Linked DNA regions of Homo sapiens. The protein of the gene in region 3 purifies or fractionates together with the protein of the main gene of each other region. This does not show direct contact. Each region holds a gene or a part of one and is shown on either strand. Other genes may lie near its edges. The genes, in order: APPL1, NSDHL, CLTA, LSM1, AP2A2, SORT1 and SH3D19.

Region 1 (3,500 bases), on a different chromosome or scaffold from region 3:
GTGAGTATGTCTACCTTGCCTTTGATAGCCTTAGTTTCCTTATCTTTGACAAATTTTTATTGACATTCTTTTTTTTTTTTTTTTTTTGAGACGGAGTCTCCCTCTATTGCCCAAGCTGGAGTGCGGTGGCATGATCTCGGCTCACTGCAAGCTCCGCCTCCCAGGTTCACGCCATTCTCCTGCCTCAGCCTCCTGAGTAGCTGGGACTGCAGGGGCCCGCCACCATGCCTGGATAATTTTTTTGTATTTTTAGTAGAGATGGGGTTTCACCGTGTTAGCCAGGATGGTCTCAATCTCCTGACCTCGTGATCCACCCGCCTCGGCCTCCCAAAGTGCTGGGATTACAGGCGTGAGCCACCGCACCCGGCCTGACATTCTTAACATTTACTTATAAGCTTTCCCCCTTAAAATAAAGATAATTTAAAAAAATTTTTTTATTTTGAGACAGAGTCTTGCTTTGTCGCCCGCCCAGGCTGAAGTGCAGTGGCGTGATCTCGGCTCACTGCAACCTTCACCTCCCAAGTTCAAGCTATTCTCTTGCCTCAGCCTCCTGAGTAGCTGTGACTACAGGCACGTGCCACCACACCCGGCTAATTTTTTGCATTTTTAGTAGAAACGGGGTTTCACTGTGTTAACCAGGATGGTCTCAATCTCCTGACCTCATGATCTGCCTGCCTCGGCCTCCCAAAGTGCTGAGATTACAGGCATGAACTACTGTGCTCGGCCTAAAATGAAGATAATTTTTAAATGTGCATGGTAGAAAAATGACAAAACAAAACAAAAGCCAAACAATATAGACATGTATAAAGAAGAAGAAAGGAAAACCCCCAAATTGTGCATTCGGAAAAACCTAGTTAGCATTTTATATGCTGAAGAGTCGGCCATGTTGGGGAGGGTGTACTGTGGTATTTTTAGATTAGGACAGGAAGGGGTTTGGCCTCTTCTAGCAAAAACTGTAGAAGAAATAATCATACTAAATTATCCTGAAGTAAGACATTTAAAATATTTATACTACATGGAATGCTGTTAATTTAGCTTTGAACGTTTCTGTTGATTTGTTCTTAGTTTATAGAATTTTTAGTTTATGAAAATATACCTCTGTTGTTTCTCCTAAAGTTTGTGTGACATAGTTGGAAAATACCTCTGCTTTGTTGAAGTGAAACTAAGAACAAAAAAAAAAGACTTCTTAACATTACTATCAAAAGAGACAAAATAGATTAAAACTCAGAATTACTAGAACTTTAATATCCTACGATTTTTGCTTCCTTTAGAAAAAATATTTTTCCATCTGATTTGTATAATGATTAACATAAACTTATTGCTATTGTTTTATACAGACAAGGTCTTTACTAGGTGTATTTGAAGAAGATGCCACAGCTATTTCCAACTATATGAACCAGTTGTATCAAGCTATGCATCGGATTTATGATGCACAGGTAAAACACTAAGGACTAACTTGATGCTTTTAAAACACGAATCTTTAAGCCTCATGAGGACAGATAGTGTCTGTCTTGTTTACCACTGCTTTAGCCCTGTGTTAGGCTCATAGTAATAAATATTTGTTGAATGGATTAATGAACATTGAGTGTATTACAGAACTGACATTTCAACTACTAGTGTACAGTTTGTAGTACTACAAAAGTGATAGACGATTGAAGCATCTGCCCATTCTCCCCAAACATAGTTTGGGGGGAACCCCCCATTAAACTCACTGATAGTGATCTTTCCTAAGATTTGAATGAAGACCCCATGTCATCACTGGTATTTTCCCTAATCATGCTTATTACAATCTTATGGAGCACTTCCCCACCCCCACTTTTTTTTTTTTTTTTTGAGATGGAGCTTTGCCCTTGTTGCCCAGGCTGGAGTGCAGTAGTGTGATCTTGGGTCACCACAACCTCCACACCCCAGGTTCAAGTGAGTCTCCTGCCTCAGCCTCTCAAGTAGCTGGGATTACAGGCATGCACCAGCACGCCTGGCTAATTTTGTATTTTTAGTAGAGACAGGGTTTCTCCATGTTGGTCAGGCTGGTCTCGAACTCCCGACCTCAGGTGATCCGCCCGCCTTGGCCTCCCAAAGTGCTGAGATTGTACCCAGCCCCCTTTTTTTTTTTTTTGGAGATGGAGTTTTGCTAATGTCTCCCAGGCTGGAGTGCAATGGTGCAATCTCAGCTCACTGCACCCTCCACCTCCCAGGTTCAAGCAATTCTTCTGACTCAGCCTCCTGAGTAGCTGGAACTACAGGCATGCACTACTACGCCCAGATAATTTTGTATTTTTAGTAGAGGCAGGGTTTCACCATGTTGGCCAGGCTGGTCTCGAACTCCTGACCTCAGGTGATCTGCCCGCCTCGGCCTCCCAAAGTGCTGGGATTACAGGCGTGAGCCACTGCACCTGGCCAACACTTTCCCTTTTTCAGTGGAGGATTTGAAAGTTGGCTGCCTCTGTCTAGTTAAAAGAAGGCACTAAAAATTAGATGTACCTCTGGAGTACAAGAAGATGAAGGGTATGACTAAGTTTTCTTATTGACCAGCAATAAAATTTGAAGCTATGTTTGGATAACTTAATTATAAGCTTAAACAGCAACCTAGGTTCTGTAATATACTTTCTTTGGGATTAATTAAGCGTACAAGTTTTATTTTTTTCCCTTCTCATATTGTTTGCTTTCTGGCTTCACATTTTCATTATGTACTTAAGAGTTGCTATGTTGTTGTTTAGTTTTTCCTTGTGATCAGGCTCTGAAGCTTTGCTTTCTGACTACAGAGATATATGATTAATATGTTAAAGAAATGTTCTCTTTGTTATATTCACCAAAAAAACTAAATTAAAGTTTTTCATATGGCTGTGTTGCTATGTTATATGACTGGGTCAACCACATTTTGGTTGTATGTTATTAAGTGCTTACTGTAGTCTAGTATCAGCATCTACAGAGGGCAATAATCAGTCATCAACGTAGATGCTCTAAAGATTTTGCTAAGGTTATATCAGTTTATTTCTAGGCTTTAAAGTATTTAGTGCTTAGTTTTTATTAGCAAAAAACAAACACCAGGAACACTGCTGAATTCCTGGAGAGTGTCTATTTTATGGTTTGAGTTTTCTTTTAAAGTGCTTTAATGGTAGTACCCCTTTCCAGTGATTTAATGAAGGTTTTAAAAAACATGTACAATATTTATGTTAAGTGATAATAAATAAATTAGGTATTTAATTAGAAAAAACTAAAACTTTTTTCCCAGTAATATGCTAATTTGAATGCTTTTTCCATAGAATGAATTAAGTGCAGCAACACACCTGACCTCAAAACTTTTAAAAGAATATGAAAAACAGGTATTGTATATCAAAGTTTTAAAAGCATAATTTTAAAAGTATAGTATCTGTATAGATAGACTTTCAACAAGAATCCTTAAGTTTTCTTGAATTCACAGAATATGCCATTGAAATTTCATGATAGCACTTATGTTCAGATAATTTTAATGATTTAATATTAAATACAGAGGCTATCTA
Region 2 (3,500 bases), on a different chromosome or scaffold from region 3:
CATGTTGGCCAGGCTGGTCTCGAACCCCTGACCTCAGGTGATCTACCCACCTTGGCCTCCCAAAATGCTGGGATTACAGGCATGAGCCACCGTGCCTGGCCCCTATTCTTAACACTGTCTCCAAGAGGTTGATCTTATAACTCACCTCAGTAACCCATTATGGAGTCTTGCTGTTTCCAGTCTTGAGTTTTATACTTGATTGTTAGTACATGTTCATTCTTGTCCACTGTGGCTGTGAGAAGTAAAAAGTGGTCATGAAAAGTTTCATGTGATCTCCTGTAATCACACAGCATTATAGGTATGATTATCACACATTTGACTTCCCTGGGGTAAAGGCCAGTTTGATTCCCATCACTACAAGGGTCTCCAGGGAACAGCCATTGGCCTACTCATCCCAAACATTATTGATAGAACATTTCAATATCATAAAATAATCCACGTCACATTGTCCAAGAGTAGCGTACTGATTAGTCACAATTAAAATCGTGAAATGAAATCACACTGGACTAACAGCAAGGTTGTTTTTTGAAGAGATTAGCAACCTTTTGAAACACCTGTAACTAGAGATGCCAAATGAAATAAACAAGGCAGTCTGAAATCTTTCAGGATGCTTTAGTAACATATCTAGTTCTGACTGTCTTTGGGCTTAGCCAGACTTTTAGTAAACTGCAGAAATCCAGGTTGGGAAACAGGCAGCTCAGAGTTATTCTAAATAGCTACAGTTTGCCTGTACAGCTGACTTGGGAGGAGGGGAGAAGAAAGGGATTGCTAGAAAAGGGATTGATGTGAGTTTTGTATTTAATTTGGCTATGACTTGAGGAAATATACATCTCAGTCCAGGTGCAAATCATGTAACCTGGTATGATTACATGTGTTTAGGAATAATCAGAATAAAGCCTAGAAAAGAACAGGTTGGGAAGTTAGTTTTGGGTGGTAGAAGAATGGTGAGGCTGATTTTGTTAGTAGATTGCACATGGACAGATGAAGGTAAAGTACAGTGCCAGCTCCAGCTGGGCCTGGTGGAATCCAGTATGAGTGCTGTTTCAGATGGGACACCCCAACTGGGAGGGAGGTGGATCTAGAGAGGATGTCTGGCCCTGGCATCCCTTGAGTCTCTTGCATAGCTCAATTGTGTTGATGTTTAAGGAATAAGTAGGGAGATTTGTTTGTTTTTTAAATCTAGAACATAATTTCTTTAAGATCTTTCATTTCCACAAACCCAAGTTGGATTTACTGTATATGAGCTAAGGAAATTGGAGGTTGTCATCTTAAGGAGGCCCAGATACAGTTTTAGAAAGACCCTAGGGAGGAGGGATATCACAGGTCCTCCTCACAGACACCCATAGCCAGCTTGTCTGGTGTGCAGCAGCCACAGTTTGGCATCAACATCCTGAAATGAGGGTATTTAAGTGCCTGCATGTGCTACTGTGTCCTTTCATTATGCCCAGTCACCAGAGTTGGAATTACCCAAGGAATCGTGTGTGTTGTGGAGGCTGAGACATAAACACCATGGCTCTCCCCATTTCTTCAACTTCCTTGTAGTTCGGAGGAGGGAAAGCAGAGCCCTGGGCTCATCCATCCTCACTGCAGCCCCACCAGGAGATCCCATCAAGGCGGTCTTAGATTTCTAGGCTGAGGCAAGAAGGGGTTGGGCGATGAGCCCAGAGCCACACAGCCCAGCCCTGTTGTGGCCAGAGAGGGAAAGGGACTGACTTTGTCCTGCAAGTATGGAGACTGCTTTCTTCTTTCTGTTGTTTTCAGTGCAAGCTATCAGCTACCAAATGGCTGCCGTTTTGTTTTGTTTTGTTTTGTCCTTAGAGAAGCGCCCAGGGATCAGCTATCGGGAACAAGAAGGTATCACTGTTTTTTGGGGTATTTTTTAGATTGTCCAGTTTTGGTCATAGGTGGTTTGATTTCCTTTCACTGAATACAAAGCATGGATCTTGTCATCAAACCCAACCAAAGTCAATCTCAGTGTCATTCGCTATCTCTCTTCCCTCCTTACTGATCCCAGGAGAGAAGGTTAGGGTTGCACTAGTGATGGAACACCAGGATGATATAAAGCTTCCAACTTGGCTCAAGAAGAGTTCCAAACAAACAAGTATATCTGCCATTGCAGTGGCTCATGATATGTAAGTCTGGACTCTGTAGCTTCCAGTCCTCACTACCCTGGTCTTCCCCACCGTTCCTCTCTTTCCACAGGCCAAGAGATGCACAGTGATCGGTGGCTCTGGATTCCTGGGGCAGCACATGGTGGAGCAGTTGCTGGCAAGAGGATATGCTGTCAATGTATTTGATATCCAGCAAGGGTTTGATAATCCCCAGGTGCGGTTCTTTCTGGGTGACCTCTGCAGCCGACAGGTAATGGACCATGCAGCCTTGCTGATTTCCCACGAGCCCACGAAGGGAAACCACGATACTTCCCTTGCTCAGAAGCCAGCCAATTTGTTTGAAAAACAATTGTTTCATTGTGAAAATTTTCAAAGTTATAGGAAAGAACACCACATTCTTACTGCTTAGAATGAATAACCATCATCTCTGTCACAGATACTCAGCTGTGTCCTGGTAGCACAAAAGCAGCCATGGTCAGCACTTAAATGAACAAATGGCTGTGGCTGTATGCCAGTGAAACTTGACTTCAAAAGCCGTCCATGGGCTGTATTGTTCCAACTGCAAAACAAGTGTGTGCTGGGCCACAGGGTCTTGATTTTTTAATTGAGATATAATTCATGTACCACAAATTTCACATTTTTAAAGTGTGCAATTCAGTGATTTTCAGTACATCCACAAAGCTGTGCAACTGTCTCCCATGATCTAACTCCAGAATATTTGTATTACCCCAAAATGAAATCTTGTAGCCATCCCCTCTCTTCCCCTCCCAGCCCCTGGCCGCCACTCATCTACTTCCCATCTATGGATTGGCCTCTTCTGGACATTTCATATAAATGGAATCATGTAATATTTGTACCTCTGTGCCTGACTTTTTTCACTTAGCATGATGTTTTCAAGCTTCATCCATGTTGTACAGGTATGAATATCTTGAATTTTATTAGATGGTGCCAAATGGCTCAGCAAAGCTGCTATGTCAATTTTACCTCCATATCCACAATGTGGCACAAGCCCCATTGCTTCACATCTTTGCCAACACTGGGCATAACTAGACTTTTTGGTGTTGCCATTCTGAGAAGTATGAAGTGGTGCTTCACTGATGTTCAGAGTCACATGTCCTCCCTGACCAAGTAACCAGCCACTCTGCCACTGGGTGATCGGCTTTCAGGCTTCCTCCTGTGTGAAATGTTTGTCTGTGTCCTTTGCCCCTTTGTCTTTGGGGTTACCTTTGCTTCCTTGTTGATCTAGTTGGGATGCCAATCCTGTGCCCGTTGTACTTATTATGGATGGCTTCCCTCAGCCTGTCACTGGGCCCTTATTCTTGGCTTTGGTGTCATTCGCTATATGGTTTGTTGATGAAATATTAAGGCCATTGCTTCCGCTGCAAAGTT
Region 3 (3,500 bases):
GCAGAATGAGTGGGAGGAAAAGGCAAGGCAGGCTGGCTTATAAACCCATAACCCTTTTAGTTTACACAAAGGACTAAACCTGATCGATTTCAACTTGGGTTTCCCTCCACAAGAAGAGTAGAGGTTTCATGACTCCTGTCAAATCATCACTAAGACAACAAAAGTTTGAATGTCAGGCTCTTGCTCCTTTGCAGCTAGCCCAAGACCAAAGAGCTCCTCAGTGACAAGCACATCCCCTGTCAAGGTTGCAGGCCCAGAACAAACAGAAAATCAGACACACACACAGGTGGCCCTCCCCTTATTTGTCCTTCACTTGAAAGTAGCAATCCTCAGCCAAGGCAGGAAGGGGCTCAGGGAGGCTTAGGAGAGGGGAGGGAAGAGGAATACCTGACCTAGGACAAGCTCTGGAGGCACGAATACAATGCAGAACTTCATTCCATAAACAGCCTCAAAGTGGGCACAGAAAAAAATGTTTGCCATCTCTGAGAACTGTGGGTTCCCCAAACCTTCTCAAGCCTTGAAAGAGCTGACAAGCACAAGTGCTACCTGTAATAGGGGAAATGTTCTGGGGTTGTTCTTGATGAGCAAACTCATCCAGCTGCAGGAGTCAGTCACTGCTCTGGCTGGCTGGCTATGAAAAGGAAATTCTTTTCCATGGCTGTCACTGAATAATTCACAGCTCTTGTACTGTGACACTTAGGCCTCAACTTGGGATAAAAGAAGGGAGATGCAGTCTGGGGACTGACAATAGAGTACAGCACACCCACCCCCAGTGCAGTGCCAGGCGCGACGTGCTCCTAGTGCTTTGGTGACCCAGTGGTGAGGCAGCTGGAAGGCAGGAGGCCTGAGGATGCTCTCACAATTAACTGGATGCCCTTCCTGTCTCCGACTTTCCTCTTTCAAACTTCTCATCTTTCTGCCTTATCTCTCGGGTCCCCTTAACATCTAGCTACTGCAGAAGTCACCCAGAGAGAATCATACTTGCTTGAAATGAGCACCCCGTTTTCTTTTTTCTTTTCTTTTTTTCAGACTGAGTCTCGCTCTGTTGCCCAGGCTGGAGTGCAGTGGCGCAATCTCAGCTCACTGCAACCTCTGCCTCCCGGGTTCTAGTGATTCTCCTGCCTCAGACTCCCGAGTTGCTGGGATTACAGGCACACACCACCACACCCAGTTAATTTTCGCATTTTTAGTAGAGATGGGGTTTCACCATGTTGGGCAGGCTGGTCTCAAACTCCTGACCTCAAGTGATCTGCCCGCCTCAGCCTCCCAATGTGCTGGAATTACAGATGTTGAGTCACGGTGTCCGGCCCCCATTTTCTTTTCTAAAAATATTCACTCTTTACCCATAGACAGATAACAAGGATGAATTACTTTATACATCTAAATGGGACCTATTCCTTTGAACTCTAAAGTTTAGAGTCAAACATGGATGGAGAGGGGGAGTAGTCAGCAATATAAAAATCTCCAGGGGAGGGTGTAGACCCTTGGAAGAAGTCCCCCAAAGTGACTCTCAAATGGATCCCACCTCCAACCAGTGAAGAATCACTGGAATAAACTGTAAAAACCATCTCTTCTGTCCTAGAGCCCTGGTGACAATGGCTAGTGTGCCACTAGCGTTATGCTCTCAAGAGTCAGCCCTGTGCTGCAAGGTTCCCACAAGGCAAGTGACCTGCTTCCTAAGCAGCTCTACATTCTCAGTGAGCAGTGGGGAAGTTCCTTCTCTCTGGAACTTAAGAGGTTCATCTGTGAGACCAGCTTACCCAGCATTCTACAGTTCCAAGTACAGAAAGGTACCAAGGCCCAAATTCAATGCCTGGAGGGACTAAACTTTTAAGACTGAGCTCCTAAAAACAGGTGTCATGGCCAGGCGCGGTGGCTCACGCCTGTAATCCCAGCACTTTGGGAGGCCAAGGAAGGCAGATCACGAGGTCAGGAGATCGAGACCATCCTGGCTAACACAGTGAAACCTTGTTTCTACTAAAAACAGAAAAAAATTAGCTGGGCATGGTGGCGGGCACCTGTAGTCCCAGCTACTCGGGAGGCTGAGGCAGGAGAATGGCGTGAATCCAGGAGGTGGAGCTTGCAGTGAGCCGAGATCGCACCACCGCACTCCAGCCTGGGCAACAGAGCAAGACTCCATCTCAAAAAAAAAAAAAAAAAAAAAACAGGTGTCATTACTCCCTCTGAGAACAACGGATTCTGTATACAGAGAATATCCCTTTCTTGACAGTTCAGCAAAACTTCCTTGAAAAAAATTTCTGCAACAGAAAGGCTGTTACCAACATATTCATTATCTAAGTTTGAAAACTTGTGTTAAGTTATTGACGCATCACAGACCCAGAGCGGGGAGGGTCGGCACAGCTACAGTACTTCAGACTAAACTTAAATGCTGGGGTCGCAGGCTGGGGGAGTTCTCAGGGCTCGCAGGGTGCTTGCACACAGTCCCCACTCGGCTTTACCGATCTGAACTTCCACCTGGGAGAAAATCATCTTGAGGGAGCAGAGGACACAGGAGCCTGGACCTGTCAGCACCACCTACTGACCACAGGCTCAACAACAGCCCCACGTAGCTGATGGAAGCCATCACCACTGGCAACCCAGCCTGCACACCAGAGAGCAGTCCTGTGGGACTGGGACTGTGGAGTCCTGTGGACTCCACATGGAACCTGACAGGCACTCCTTGAGCACACCGCCCCCAGAGGAAAGTGACCAGGACACAGGCTCAAGCCGGAATCCAATGAGCTGAAGGGCTGCTAGCATATAAAAGAGAGTCCAACTGCTCTGTCATACTGGACCCACAATAGCACTGGCTGGCTGGCAAAGCCGTTAGCTCTCTCTCCTGCCACATCTCTGTCTAACAGAGCTGCCAGAGACAAGGGCACTTAACCCAACCTGCTTCCTGCCTCTGCATACGAGAACCCAAGGCTCTACCCTGAAAATTAAAAATATCCCCAGGCTCGGTCTGGCCCGTTTATACACTGAAGTGAATGGATTGACTATTCAGTGAAAGTTGGGCTCTGAACCTGCCTGCCCTGAGGGAAGCAACACCACATATCCTCTCTTTGCTGCTTCCAAGAAGGGCTCTAAGTGTAGGGCATTAAAGCCCAGCTGCTGGTGAGTAGTGATATGAGAATGAAAGCGTTTTTCTCCTCACAACTCCTTAACCATCAGTAACTAAATAAAATCTATTTCAAACAGAACATTTTTAAGAAGTCAATTCAAGACTTTTTAAGGCACAAATAAGTACCCACAGAACCCTCAATTCTAAAATAATCATGTTGGAACATCCTTGGCTGCCTAATTACAAAGCACATATTCCTGCCAACGGACCCCTTCATGAAGTGGCTTTCAGGGGGCAGGGCTATATTGAGGAGACTCAACATGACCAAGTCTATAATCATATCCAAAGTAACTAGATCTGGGTGTATTCATGACACCCAGCTTTCGTTTCAGGGTTCCATGGAAAGTAACTTTTCCCTTGGCTGAATCACACCATTACA
Region 4 (3,655 bases), on a different chromosome or scaffold from region 3:
TTGAGACGGAGTTTCGCTCATTGCCCAGGCTGGAGTGCAATGGTGCAATCTTGGCTCTCCGCAACCTCTGCCTTCCAGGTTCAAGTGATTCTCCTGCCTCAGCCTCTCAAGTAGCTGGGATTACAGCATGCGCCACCACGCCCTGGTAATTTTGTATTTTTAGTAGAGACAGGGTTTCTCCATGTTGGTCAGGATGGTCTTCAACTCCCGACCTCAGGTGATCTACCCGCCTCGGCATCCCAAAGTGCTGGGATTACAGGCATGAGCCACCGCCCCTGCCGAACATTTGTATTTCTTAACAGATACAAACATGGAAACAGGAGAGGACCCCTGAGATGACTGGAATAAAAATATTCCTTCCTAAGTAGCCAGCTACTTGAAACTGTGACTGAAGGGGGAAATCCCAGTATGTGGACTGCTTATACCTTTGAGAGCAGAAACTTAATTAATCTATTAATCTATTCATTACAGGTAACTCAAACTTGGAAATAACATGACACTTTTGAGATTCATATTTTATTTACAAGTAAATGAAGACTGTCCCTGTAAACTCTAATTTGGGATATGAAGAACAATATAAAGAAGTAGTTGCTGGTGCCACAGTGATGTGTGAAGGAGTCTATGCCACTGTTTCTTTAAACAGTGATTTTGTTATTAAAAAAAAAACCCACCTACACGATTTCTTCATGTTGCATATGTAAAATAATTAAAAATAAAAGTGACTTTTCAAAACTCTACAGTCTGTGATCAAATGCGTGAGGTGGCCAGGATGTCACTTTCACTCAGTGACAGCCCCTACTCTTCAAGAGCCAACAGCCTCTGGGCAAAAGATTAGTACTCATCAAGAGTATCTGCTCGAGGAATGGAAAGACCTCGGTCCTTCAGGGCCTGCACTTTCAACTTCTCTGCTTCCAGCTTGGTCTGCTGTTCCACCCTTTGTTCTTCTAGAATTTCTTCAATGGATACTTGCTGGAGGGGTGTGTCACTCTCCTTTTCCAAGTCCTACAAAAGAGACAGGTTTGAAAACTTCACCTGAAGACCAAGAATAGAAAGCACAGATCTCAAGGCAAATGGATTCCTCTATCAGGCTCAGATTATTTTTCATAACTGTGACAGGAACTGAAATATCCTTCTCCTAGGGACCGGTAAGTTTTTCAAAGAAATGCCTGACAACACTACTATAGGATACATACTTACAATGAGGTTAATAGTGATCAGTATATGTATATATTTTTCAAGATGGAGTCTCTCTGTCACCCAGGCTGAAGTGCAGTGGCGCAATCTGAGCTCACTGCAACCTCTACCTCCTGGGTTCAAGCGATTATCCTGCCTCAGCCTCCTGAGTAGCTGTGATTACAGGCACGTGCCACCACGCCTGGCTAATTTTTGTATTTTAAGTAGAGACAGGGTTTCACCACGTTGGTCAGGCTGGTCTCGAAACCTGACCTCATGATCTGCCTGCCTTGGCCTCTCAAAGTGCTGGGATTATAGGCAGTAATAAGTATTTGTATAACAGAGCTTTATGTGATCCAAAATCCCATATTAGTCAGGATTAATTTTCTATTAGTCCACGATTAATTTCCTTAAAAAAAAAAATTAGGGCTGCTTATAGACAGCTATCTCCCCCACTGCAGAGAATCCAAGAGGGAGGTTATTGAGGCAATGTGGCCTTAGACTTTTTTTTTTTTTTAATTATTTTAAGGACGGGTGGAGTGGCTCACAGTCGTAATCCCAGCACTTTGGGAGGCTGAGGTGGGAGGATCACTTGGGCCTAGGAGTTCGAGACCAGCCTGGGCAACACAGTGAGACCCTAACTAACTCCACCAAAAAACAAAACAAAAAAAAGCTGGTGTGGTGGTGTTCACCTACAGTTCCAGCTACTCAGGAGGCTGAGGTGGAAGGACTGCTTGAGCCTGGGAGGTTGAAGTTCAAGGCTGCAGTGAGCCATGAATGTGTCACTGCACTCCAGCCTCTGCAACAGCAAGACCGTCTCAAAAAAAGTAAAAAGACAAAAATAAAAAGGGATCCTCTTGCCTTTACCTCCTACGTAGCTGGGGCTACAGGTGTGCGCCACCGTACCAGCTCTGTAGTCTAGATCTAAACTGTAACAAGACTCTTTTTCCCTTTACGGCAACAAGTCTTCTAGGGAGAACCTCGGCAGACCATTTAGGTTACTAAACCAATTTGGTCCCAATATTTTTCTCCACTATTTAAAAAATTGCTGCTTAGGTTGGGCATGGTGGCTCACGCTTGTAATCCCAGCACACTGGGAAGCCGAGGCGGGCAGATCACTTGAGGCCAGGAGTTCGAGACCAGCCTGGCCAACATGGCAAAACCCCCGTCTCTACTAAAAATACAAAAAAAATTAGCTGGGCGTGGTGGCAGGTGCCTGTAATCCCAGCTACTTGGGAGGCTGAGGCAGGAGAAGCACTTGAACCTGGGAGGCGGAGGTTGCAGTGAGCGGAGATCACGCCATTGCACTCTAGCCTGGGTGACAAGAGTAAAACTCCATCTCAAAAAAAAACAAAAAATTGTTGCCTAATAAAAAATTCCTTATTTAAAAAATACACACTCATCGTAGATAATATGGAAAATAGACAAACAAGGAAAATTTAAAAATTATCCATAATTCCAGTATGGAGGATTAACATTTTGATAATATCCCTACAATTTTTCTACATATATACTGACTTAAAAAAAATAAACAACCCAGCCAGGTGTGGTGGCTCACACTTGTAATCCCAGCTACTCGGGAAGCTGAGGCACGAGAATCACTTGAATCCAGGAGGCAGAGGTTGCAGTGAGCCAAGATCACACCACTGCACTCTAGCCTGGGCGACAGAGTAAGACTCTGTCTCAAAAGGAAAAAAAAAAAAAAGTAAAAAATAAAAAATTAGCTGGGCGTGGTAACGTGTACCTATAGTCCCAGCTACTCATGAGGCTGAGGGGGGAGGATCACTTGAGCCCAGGAGTTTGAGGCTGCAGTGAGCTGTGATCACACCACTGCAGTCAGCCTAGATAACAAAGTGAGACGCTGCCTCAAAAACAAACCCCTCCCAAAAACCCACAATGCAAATACTGACTTTAATTCGTTTTTTCACTTAAATGTGGCATAGTATGCTTAATATTTTTATTTTTGAATGTTTTATAAACATTTTTCATTAATTATTTTTAAAGATATAGAAGACTTCATGAATTTGCGTGTCATCCTTAAGCAGGGGCCGTGCTAATCTTCTCTGTGTTGTTCCAATTTTAGTAGATGTGCTGCCAATGTGAGCACATTTTTCATTTTTTTAGAGACAGGATCTTGCTCTGTTGCCCAGGGTGGAGTGCAGTGGCACAATCACAGCTCACCATGATCTGAAACTCTTGGGCTGAAGTGATCCTCCTGCCTCAGCCTCCTAAGTAGCTGGAACTACAGGCATGTGCCACCACATCTGGCATTAAATCTTTTTTCTTTTTGTAGAGATGGGGTCTTGCTATGTTGCCCAGGCTGGTCTCAAACTTCTGGCCTCAAGCATCCTCTTGCCTTGGCCTCCCAAAGTGTGAGCCACTGTGCCTGGCCCTTATAAACATTTGCTAACCAATGTCATAATGCAGAAGAACCTTGCTAAAAAAGTATCTCACTGTCCATAGATTCAGTTTATTGTCCTTA
Region 5 (3,436 bases), on a different chromosome or scaffold from region 3:
CCTGGGATCTGCAGTTGGGCAGGGCTGCCCCCAGCAGGGTCTGGGCTGGTAAGAGAAGCTGCCTCTGGCTTTGGGCCCCTGCCCTCCCTCCATTAGGACTGTTCCGTCTCTGGCGAAGCCCACCGTCCTCCGGGGGCCACCCCCATCTGCCCGAGAGCCCCTTCTGCACCATCTGTGGTAGGATCAACTGGAGGATCCCCACGGGGCCTCCCGTTCCCCAGGAAGGAGCCCTGGGCTGCACCTCAACACACTGTACAGTGGGGAGCCCTGCGGCCAGGCTGGAGGGGTTCCCGCATGACCTGAGTCCCAAAAAGCTCCACCACACACCCAGAATCAAACCGGCGGAGCAAAGGGCAGGTCACTTTCTGATGCCCGCTGCCCGTGAGCCCACTGCTGAAGGACAGGTCGGGGACCTTGGGGTCTGTGCCTCACGCGACCCCCGGGGAGCTATGAGGGTTACATGGGATGCTTTCCCCCCAAAGAAAGCGCGTGATCCGGGGTGCAGTTCTAGCCTTTATTTTTCTTTGACGAGGAGTGCCACACTGAGGGCCCCTCTGCAGCGCCGCACAGGGAAGCGGTGCCTCGGGGAGCAGCCTTTCCTCTGATGGCGGGAGGGGTCAAGGGATGCAGGAGATCCACGGCAGCACACGCAGCCTGCAGGCGCAGCACACAGGCAGAGCACTGCCCAGCAGCTGGAACATGAGAATGAGGGCCACACCACCCAGCTGCAGCACAAGCCCAGCACGGCGTGTCACGGCACCTGGCACCACCAGACCCAGAATGGCCTGTGCGAGAGGCGCACGCCACTGACGTGGCTATGCTGTGATCAAAGCCCGACACGCCGGAAGAAGAGCCGCAGACATTGTGGGGTGCACACACTGCAGGGGAGCTGTGGAGACCCTGATGGGTCCATGAGCCCCTGCAGCTGCCCCAGGGACCCGCACAGCAGGCAACTGAGGGCCAGGGTGAAAACCCTCAAGCACATGTGGCCACCCACCCTCCCTGCCTCCACAGCATGTCAGGAAGCCAGAACCTGTGCTGGGTGTGTTTAGGACAAACAAGGCCACCATCCTGGGGACAGAGCGCAAGGCCCCAGCCTTGGCTCCTAGGCCGGCCCCACTCTCTCGCCTCTCAGGTGTCAGACGTGCAGCCTGGGTGCTGAGTCCAGATGACAGGTGAGACACAAGCCGCAGGTGGCACATGGCATGCGGCCAATGGCCCCTTCACTTCCTGACCACACAGAGGCGTCCCTCCTCCACAGCCCCTCCAGGGACGACTGGACGGGGCCGGTGGAAGGACTCAGGCCTGCACCGTGGCCTGGGGACGCCCACTCTGACAGGAAAGAGACGAGCACACCTCTGAGTCTTGCGCCACCGGCCCACACTTTACCCTGGAGTCCTGGGGGCCCTGCGGGGCCGGCAGGACGCTCCTCCCCTGGCTGCACATCCAAGGCCTCGGCGACTGCAGGAGCATAACAGACGCCCTTCACAAACAGGAGCTGGGAAAGGAGAACAGTTACATCCGGCCAGGACACGTGCTTTTGCCAGAAGTCATTACAAATACAAATGTTTCTAAATTCTAGATTAAAATCCTGCCTGGGAAAACAGTCCAGCTGGGACTGCAGCAAAACCAGGGTCAGCTGTGCTCCTCCCAAGGGCCCAGGACGACGCCAGGTGTGCAGCCACCAGGACGGCCACACACCAAGGCTCAGCCCACGCCATGCACAGTGGCACTGCTGCTCCCAGAGGCTCCGAGGCGGGGTGGGCGGCAGCACGGGCCATCTCAGTGACACTCCCACAAACGCCACGTTCACGCCAACTTCTAATTTCCCTTTAATTTGTAGATTTAACCACAGAACTGTCTCGATTTTTATAAAAATTGATCCCAAGATCCACCTTCTGCCGTGGCTGCCACAGTCCAGGCTGAGCTTTTCCTCCTGAGCCACACACGTGTGTTCCCGTCCAGCCCAAAGGGGAGAGGTGTGGGGCGGCGGGGCGGGGAGGCGCCTTGTGCTGTGGCACTGGACACGGTGCTCATCTGCAGGATGGCCACGAAGACAAACGGCACAGACGAAGACAACACAAGACACACGAGCCTGGTCTTCCATCCTCAGGACTAAAACTGCGCTGAGAGCAATTCACATAATCTCTGAGAAACGGCTTCCTTACTTGTGCGCAGCGTGAGCCGGTACATCTGAAACAGAGAGCACAGCAGGTCAACGGGCACGCCGAGGCTCACACAGCCCTCGGGTCCAGGATCCGCCATGCAGAACCCTGTGGGCCATGCCCAGGGACCACTCTCTGGAGGCACCCACAACTCGGCAGAGGCCTGAGCACCACACACACTGTCAGCATGAAAACTGAGGGCTGGCATGGGAGCGCCTGGCGTCTCGTACGTAGCTGGCGGGAGTGCAAAGTGGCACGGCCACCTGGAGAAGCTGTGGGATGTTCTTGCAGCACTAACCACACACAGGCCCTGGGCGACAGCAGCACTCCTGGGTGCCACCCAAGTGAAACGGAGACAGGTGTCCGTCGCCAGAACGGGACGTGGTGAGAAGGAACAACGCGGTGACAGAGAGGAACAGCTGGGAGAGCCACCGCCCAGGGCCAGGCTGCTCCATGGTGGGACGATGCTCCACGGTGGCCAGCTGTGGGGAGGCTGGGATGCAACCATGTATTGACAGGGTGGTGGTTAAACAGGCACACAACATCTGTCACAACTGACTGAACTGCACTAGGGATGATGCTCCACGGTGGCCAGCTGCGGGGAGGCTGGGAGGCAACCATGTATTGACAGGGTGGTGGTTAAACAACATCTGTCAAAACTGACTGAACTGCACTAAAGAGCTACACATCTCACCACGTACATTGTGCCAGAATAAAAAGCAACTCAAGTGTGTTCCACCATTTCCTGAGGGCCTGACCTGGGCTTGCAGGTTCGGCTCCAAGCGCAGCAGGCATCCAATCTGGGTGGTTTTCGTGTGGATGATTCCAGCTCCCACGAAATTCGCAGGATTAGGATCAACTTCTTCAAGAAGTGCAGAACCAAATCCAATGATCTGTCCAAAGAAACAGGAGAATGAGGACCCTGGCGCGGGGTCGCGGGCAGCGTGTCCCCCGGGGCCGCCCCTCCAGACCCTGGCGCTGGGTCGTGGGCTGCGTGTCCCCCGGGGCCGCCCCTCCAGACCCTGGCGCTGGGTCGCGGGCTGCGTGTCCCCCGGGGCCGTCCCTCCAGACCCTGGCGCGGGGTCATGGGCTGCGTGTTCCCCGGGGCCGTCCCTCCAGACCCTGGCGCGGGGTCACGGGCTGCGTGTCCCCCGGGGCCGTCCCTCCAGACGTGTTACCTTGGCTTTGGTGACTTCTGTGTCCATTGGGTGCTTTGCTTTGAAGATGTTCTGCACTTCCTGCTGTGGACTGTGAGAAACAGCAAAGGCGAG
Region 6 (3,500 bases), on a different chromosome or scaffold from region 3:
CACAGCAGGGGTGCACTTCTTACAGGACTGTGGACTTTCTCAGTTTTATACACTCAGGAACGCATCACAGACACAGAAAGCACAGTCCATGGTTGACATATGAAAAATGTACGACATGAGAAGATTTGGGCCTGATTTTTCAGGAACAGTACTGCAAGTACCTAGTTTTTGCCAAGAGTAGACTCAGCCATATGCCCTAGATCAGCCTTCTGGCTTGAACTCAGTACCTTGGATTGACTTCTGTGTTCCTTACCTTCCCCCACAGACATATTTCTTCACAATGAGCACTCCTGCTACGACTGTGACCAGCATCAATCCCACGATGGCCAGGATAATTGGAACAGAATTTGACTTGGAATTCTTGAGAAATTAAAACACAAACACAAAAGTTTTAGGCATGCATATCCTAGGACTGAGGTCAAGGCAGCCACTCATTCCCCTCATCTCTTTGTGAATGATCTGCAGTCCTGATGCGCTTAATGATGGCTCTTTTCCAACCCCCCAAGATGAACCATCTCAGTGTTACCAGGAGAATATTATAGCTGGCAGAGAGTCATCTTAGCTCCAACTGCCTTGAACCTTCAAATTCTGTGGTTTAAATGTCAAAGTTACACTGGAAGCCTGGGCAACTGCCTAGATCAAGTATGATTGCTTCACACTACCACTGTTCACAAGTCTTGGGGCTTAAGGGTGGAGTAGGAAAGGGAGACTACTGTAACAGTAGGCTGAATGACTCTAGAACAGGGCCATTATCTGGGAAGAAGCTGTGTCAGAAGAACCAGGCAGGCCATTATATGACACCAAGATTTATTTGTTTACTTAATTTTTTATATATTATTATAAATAAGCCTTATCATATCACTGTTTGCATGTGACCTACCTGCTTCTGGGTGGGAAATAGGGAGTGTGTGTTTTCAATGTATCCCAGAGGAGGCAGAGCTGGATTCTAGGACAAGCTGTGTCCCTGTGGGTGGGAGTCCTGTGCAATCACACACACGAACACTCTGAGGAGAGTCACCAGGAGCCCAGGACAAGGGTGCACAGAAGGAGGAACTCGCCCCCTTACCAATACACACACTCACACACTCCTCTCCCATCATCTCCTTAATCCCACCCCTTGTCAGTCCCTCATCCCTTAGAACAGCAGAGAGGAGGGACTGCAGGTGATCCAGCTTGACCTCTCCTATTACGAATTGGGAAACGGGCCTGCTGTTGAGCATCTGAAGTCATGCTGCTGGTCTAGTGTTTCATTATCAAGAGGTTTCCTCTTTACACATCTCCAGTTCCACAGGTAGTTCAGTGCTACAGATTTGGATGCAGCCTCATAACCTTTTTTTTTTTTTTTTTTTTTTAAATTGAGACAGGATCTCACTCTGTCACCCAGGCTGGAGTGCAGTGATATGATCATGGCTCACTGCAGCCTTGACCTCCCAGGCTCAGGTGATTCTCTCCCTTCAGCCTCCTGAGTAGCTGGGACTACAGGCACACACCACCACATCCGGCTAATTTTTGTATTTTTTTTGTAAAGATGGAGTTTCTCCATGTTGCCCAGGCTGCTCTCCAATTCATAGCCTCAACTGATCTCCCCACCTCAGCCTCCCAAAGTGCTGGGACTATACAGGAGTAAGCCACCATGCCCGACAGGTAACTTGCTTCATTTAAATCAAAACCAGCCCATTACCATAGCTCAATTTTTCACTTTGAACATACTTAACATGACTTGGTCAGAGATCCACCCTACCTATTGCCCAGTGCTCTTCTCTTCCACACATGCACAATTCCAGGTCATGGCCCTTCACAGACAACCTTTTTTTTTTGGTACGGAGTCTTGCTCTGTTGCCCAGGTTGGAGTGTAGCAGCACGATCTCGGCTCACTGCAACCTCCACCTCCCAGGTTCACATGATTCTCCTACCTCAGCCTCCCGAGTAACTGGGACTACAGGCGTAAACCACCACACCCAGCTAATTTTTGTAATTTTAATTTTTGTATTTTTAGCAGAGACAGGGTTTCACCATGTTGGACAGCCTGGTCTTGAACTCCTGACCTCAGTGATCTGCCTGCCTTGGACTTCCAAAGTGCTGGGATTACAGGTGTGAGCCACTGTACCCAGCCCACAGACAACCTTTTTGTTTTCCTAAATGACTCTCAGCCTCAGAAATTTCCACAACTGTATGATTTTAAGAATTTTACAACTTTACAGAATATCATCCCCCAACCCTCAATAAGAAAAGAGCTTTCAGTAGGGTGAGCTTATCACTGGGTTACATGACCCATCCTTCATGCTAACAGCTTCCTGTATAAGGGAAGCCTGAGAGAAGTAGTTTGACCACTTTTTATCAGTAACAAAACTCTTGATGCTTTAACTTTGATTTTTCTTAGCAGAACACAAAATCCCATTTGTACCTGAAAACTAGACCTATTTTAACATACCTGTTTTTCCGGACTCAAAAAGTTGCTTGTGCATTTCTTTTTCAAGTCTTTTACTTCTCGAACTGGATTTACCCCACCCTGGCATTTGTCCCCTGGAATTTTCCGGTACCTACCAGGCAAAGAAGATTTGGTAACAGAAGATAAGGATGTATTCCTGGGTACCTGCCTATTTCTTGGAAACAAGATTTGAAAAGCTGCCGAAAAGCTTCCCATCCTTACGTCATGTTTCAGGCCTGGGGGGAATGTCCACAGGGATGTTTTGGGGGATATTTTGTGTAGTTTCAGGCCTTAAGCAAACTAAGCATCTCTGTCCCCTGCTGTCAGAAACATGCCTGTTCTTTCTACCTAAGAGACTGTGCCAAAGAAATCTGACCCCAAAAAAGCTCATTAACAAGTGGTACAAAATGGGAGAGGGGAAGTTATCAGGGGAGCGAGGTAATGAGGCCCGTCTAGAGCAGCACTGTCCAATATGGTGGCTACTTAAAATTGATTAAAACGAAAATTTCAGTTCCTCGGTTACACTAGTGTCCACAGCTATGTGTGGCTAGTGACTATCATATTGGGCACAGCAAATTACAGAACACTTCCATCACCAAAGAAAGTCCTATCAGACAGAGCTCTCCCTGGCTGTGCCTAAACTGTGCCAGACGAGCGATGGACGTTCATGGCGGATGGGACGCTTCTGTCATTCTGCCTGTGGGTCCCTCGCCTCTCCTCCCTTCCTGGGGGTGGTTGGGCGGGAGGCAGGGGTGCAGGATCTGGCCGAGCTTGTTCTCCTGCTCTGCCTCGTGGTGTTGGTGGGGTTGAGTCCTCTGACACCAAGCACTCATGGCTCACCTCCTGTAGTTGACCCTTGAAGGAGGCCTTCATATCCTGCCCCTCCCCAACCCCGCCAAAAATAGTGCTCTAAAGTAGGGCTTGGATCTCAGTGTGGAGAGAAGCAGCTTTCACTCTGAACAAGAACACCTCATCCATCGTGACAAGGGAGAAAAGGCCACCTCACCCATTTGTTGTTAGGTGTTCTTCTCTTCCGTACAGACAAAACTCCAGGTCGTGGCCCTTCAGTTCT
Region 7 (3,500 bases), on a different chromosome or scaffold from region 3:
AGTGGTGTGATCTCAGTTCACTGCAACATCCACCTCCCTAGCAAGCGATTCTCCTGCCTCAGGCTCCCGAGTAGCTGGGATTACAGGTGCCCACCACCACATCTGGCTAATTTTTTGTATTTTTGGTAGATATGGGGTATCATCATGTTGGCCAGGCTGGTCTCGAACTCCTGACCTCAGGTAGTCCACCCGCATTGGCCTCCCAAAGTGCTGGGATTACAGGCGTAAGCCACTGTACCTGGCCCAGGTCTTCTTAAACAATGTGATGAGTACAGGATTTTTAAACAACATGTAAATCTACTCATAGTTTCCATGGAACTTAAAATAACTTTCTCAAAATAAATTAGACAACTTTGGAATTCTAATAACAAAAAACAGTAAGCTGGTGGTCCAGAGAACTAATGCAGTTTTCAAAACTATCTAACTTAGTAGACAAAGCCACAGACTCTGAGAGGATATGACCTGACATCTTATATGAATCAACTAAAAAAACCTCTACAACTTGCAACACACAATAGAGGTGACTGAGGTTCAGCTATACCTAGTTGTGTAATTTTAGATAAAACCTTCTAACATTTCTGAGTCTCAGTTTACTCATCTTTAAAATGGGAACAAAAAACTTACCCTCTTCCCTCTCAGTTTGTTGTAAGAATCCAAATGAATGCAGTTGTGAAAGCCCTTCATAAATAGAAAAGCACCACATAAATGTAAAGTACTTCTAGAATACAGCAAGCAGCATACAGGTATAAATGCGTGGAGCATCAATAGTAACTGACTTATATGAGCAGTCAGTGTGATCACCTGGAAAAACATGGACTTCCACTTCAAAAAAAACCTGCATTCAAATCACCATTCCAGTATTTACTAGCTGAGGGACTGTGGATAAGTTGCTTAAATGTTTGTGAGCCTCAGTCTTTTCAATGATAAAATGAAGAAAATAATACCTACCTCACAGGTGATAACATAAAGAAGCACCTGGTACACCGTGAACACAGTGAATGTTCTTCTGTGCCCTCATACTGATGATATTAAAGTTATTTTACTCAAAGCACAACAGACAACAGTTATATCAGTCCTTCCAGGGTTTACCATAAACACATCAAAATATAGAAAGAGTAAATTTAGTTAGCATTTAGTAAGCCCTATTATGTGCCTACTACTCTTCCAGATGTTGGGAGGAGGATCCAGAATCTTGTATATCCTCCCTTTGGAGAAATAATATTAAAATGTTGTATGTCAGGCAGAGATTCTCAAATCTGTTTGAGAATCTGATGAAAGCTATGGCATTTCTCCCCAAGGAAAGCTACAAAGCTTTTAGGGGACAATAAAGGAAATATAGGAGAATATTTTCATGACCTTGGATAGAAATCATGTTCTTAAAGGGGGTGAGGGGGGAAGAGACACAAATTATAAAGGAAAAGATTCATAAATTCATCTATACTGAAATGAAGAATTTCCACATCGAAAGAAACCATAGAGAAAATGAAAAAGTAAGCCAGAGTGGAGGTGGAAGAAGATATTTGTAACACACATAACCAACAAAAGTTGAGATTCCTGGGTAAACAAAGAACTCCAATAAATCAATAAAAAATAATAGGCAAAATGCTGTGGTATATATTTATACAATGAAAACAAACAAACAAAAAAAACAGAACCGGGCACAGTGGCTCACGCCTGTAATTCCAGCACTTTGGGAGGCCAAGGCAGGCGGGTCACCTGAGGTCAGGAGTTCAAGACCAGCCTGGGCAACATGGCAAAACCCCGCCTCTACTAAAAATACAAAAATTAGCTGGGCATGGTGGCATGCACCTGTAGTCCCATCTACTTGGGAGGCTGAGGCAGGAGAAATCACTTGAATCTGGGAGGCAGAGGTTGCAGTGTGCTGAGATTACACCACAGCACTCCAGCCTGGGCAACAGAGCAAGACTCTGTCTCAAAACAAACAAAAACCCACAGCTACATGTAACAATACAAATAAATCTTACAAACTTAATGTTGAGTGAAAAAAGCACCTGGACTAAAGCAGGGATGTTAGTATAAATAACATTATCAGTAGCCTTTATCCTCCCTTCTTCCCCCACCCAAGCTATCCTTCCTCTAGGGTGACTATCCTTGATTTGCCTGGGACTGAGGAGTTTCCATGAATGGGGGACTTTCAGTTTTAAAAGCTGGAAAAGTCCTGGGAAACTGGGAAGAGTTGGTCACCCAATCTCGTCCGCCTATTCCCCCCACCCTCCACTTCTTGCCCTTGGCTAGCACTAACTAACACTAACACAGTGGCACTAACACACCAATCTCAGTTGTGCAGATAGAGATGAAGAATATGCAATCAATAACAGAAAGAAAAAAACCAAGAAACAAAAATGAAGTTGATCATAAATGCCAGGCTGTATAAATCAACCATGAAATCCTTTAAGCTACCGAGAAAACCCACAATGGAAACTAAGTCCTATAAGTTAGCCTGTGGAAATCTCCATGTTTATCTCATGGGTTTTCATCTGATCTACTAAAAAGGACAAATTAGCCAAAGGAACTATTTCTTAGAATTTAACAATCTGTGTTGGGGTGTGATTTCTCTCTTAATTACATGGAGTTTGCAAAGTGCATCATCCTTTTGAACCAGCAACATAAATGTTATCTGGGAATGTGTCAAAAATGAAAATTATCAGGCCCTATCCCAGACCAAGTGATCAGATACTGAGCGTGTACAAGGCCTTCAGGCAATTCAGATACATGTGGCAAAAGTTTGAGAACCACTGGATTAGTGTACCCACATCCTCTCTTCCTTGTTTGTAATGGGCATTTGGTGGATTAGTGAGACACCCCCAAGAATTCAGGTGTTGTGTCTAGCTTTCATATTACCACTCTCTGTCAGGTCAGGCAATTAAGGATCTTGGATACCACCATCAACAGTAAATATTTCACATAGTGCCAGATTTACGACACCTTAGCCTCAGCACATGAAACCCAAACAATGGAATACTCTCTGCTCCCCATTTACTTTCCTATAACTGCTTATTAATCTCATGCATCATGAGCTACTACAGAATTAACCCTCACTGGCCAGGTGCAGTGGCTCACACCTGTAATTCCAGCACTTTGGGAGGCTGAGGTGGGAGGAGTTCGAGATCACCCTGGCCAACATGGTGAAACCCCGTCTCCACTAAAAATAGAAAAATTAGCCAGGCATGGTGGTGCACACTTGTAATCCCAGCCACTCTGTAGGCTGAGGCATGAGAATCACTTGAACCTGGGAGGTGAAGGTTGCAGTGAGCCATGACCACGCCACTAGACTCCAGCCTGGGCGACAGAGCAAGACTCTGCCTAAAAAAAAAAAAAAAAAAAAAAAACCTTTCCTGAATTGACCTCAGTACTTGATTGCCTATAATTCTGCCAAAAAAAAAAAAAAAATTCAACTGAGCTTTTTATTTATTTTAGAATCATGCTGAAGATATTTTATTACTTTAAAAGCTGGGAAACATAAATACATTTTATAAAGA

What was found.
Region 1: the proteins of CLTA (region 3) and APPL1 purify together in Homo sapiens (affinity purification with mass spectrometry, with the first as the bait; one large-scale study listed by BioGRID). This does not show direct contact.
Region 2: the proteins of CLTA (region 3) and NSDHL purify together in Homo sapiens (affinity purification with mass spectrometry; one large-scale study listed by BioGRID and IntAct). This does not show direct contact.
Region 4: the proteins of CLTA (region 3) and LSM1 purify together in Homo sapiens (affinity purification with mass spectrometry; one large-scale study listed by BioGRID and IntAct). This does not show direct contact.
Region 5: the proteins of CLTA (region 3) and AP2A2 purify together in Homo sapiens (affinity purification with mass spectrometry; one large-scale study listed by BioGRID and IntAct). This does not show direct contact.
Region 6: the proteins of CLTA (region 3) and SORT1 purify together in Homo sapiens (affinity purification with mass spectrometry; one large-scale study listed by BioGRID and IntAct). This does not show direct contact.
Region 7: the proteins of CLTA (region 3) and SH3D19 purify together in Homo sapiens (affinity purification with mass spectrometry; one large-scale study listed by BioGRID and IntAct). This does not show direct contact.

Annotation. Positions count from the first base shown.
Region 1 is NC_000003.12:57,234,229-57,237,728, forward strand, and holds part of APPL1 (DCC-interacting protein 13-alpha), read left to right. Parts: intron 1-1,337; coding exon 1,338-1,436; intron 1,437-3,263; coding exon 3,264-3,323; intron 3,324-3,500. UniProt on the Homo sapiens protein: Multifunctional adapter protein that binds to various membrane receptors, nuclear factors and signaling proteins to regulate many processes, such as cell proliferation, immune response, endosomal trafficking and cell metabolism.
Region 2 is NC_000023.11:152,848,063-152,851,562, forward strand, and holds part of NSDHL (sterol-4-alpha-carboxylate 3-dehydrogenase, decarboxylating), read left to right. Parts: intron 1-2,202; coding exon 2,203-2,361; intron 2,362-3,500. UniProt on the Homo sapiens protein: Catalyzes the NAD(P)(+)-dependent oxidative decarboxylation of the C4 methyl groups of 4-alpha-carboxysterols in post-squalene cholesterol biosynthesis. Also plays a role in the regulation of the endocytic trafficking of EGFR.
Region 3 is NC_000009.12:36,204,421-36,207,920, reverse strand, and holds part of CLTA (clathrin light chain A), read right to left. Parts: intron 3,201-3,500; exon of another isoform or gene 1-3,200. UniProt on the Homo sapiens protein: Clathrin is the major protein of the polyhedral coat of coated pits and vesicles.
Region 4 is NC_000008.11:38,162,839-38,166,493, forward strand, and holds the end of LSM1 (U6 snRNA-associated Sm-like protein LSm1), read right to left. Parts: intron 1,003-3,655; coding exon 832-1,002; 3' UTR 501-831; downstream 1-500. UniProt on the Homo sapiens protein: Plays a role in the degradation of histone mRNAs, the only eukaryotic mRNAs that are not polyadenylated. Probably also part of an LSm subunits-containing complex involved in the general process of mRNA degradation.
Region 5 is NC_000011.10:1,009,305-1,012,740, reverse strand, and holds the end of AP2A2 (AP-2 complex subunit alpha-2), read right to left. Parts: intron 3,414-3,436; coding exon 3,344-3,413; intron 3,059-3,343; coding exon 2,924-3,058; intron 2,194-2,923; coding exon 2,116-2,193; 3' UTR 501-2,115; downstream 1-500. UniProt on the Homo sapiens protein: Component of the adaptor protein complex 2 (AP-2). Adaptor protein complexes function in protein transport via transport vesicles in different membrane traffic pathways.
Region 6 is NC_000001.11:109,314,419-109,317,918, forward strand, and holds part of SORT1 (sortilin isoform 1 preproprotein), read right to left. Parts: coding exon 3,435-3,500; intron 2,541-3,434; coding exon 2,432-2,540; intron 361-2,431; coding exon 254-360; intron 1-253.
Region 7 is NC_000004.12:151,319,106-151,322,605, forward strand, and holds part of SH3D19 (SH3 domain-containing protein 19), read right to left. Parts: intron 1-3,500. UniProt on the Homo sapiens protein: May play a role in regulating A disintegrin and metalloproteases (ADAMs) in the signaling of EGFR-ligand shedding. May be involved in suppression of Ras-induced cellular transformation and Ras-mediated activation of ELK1.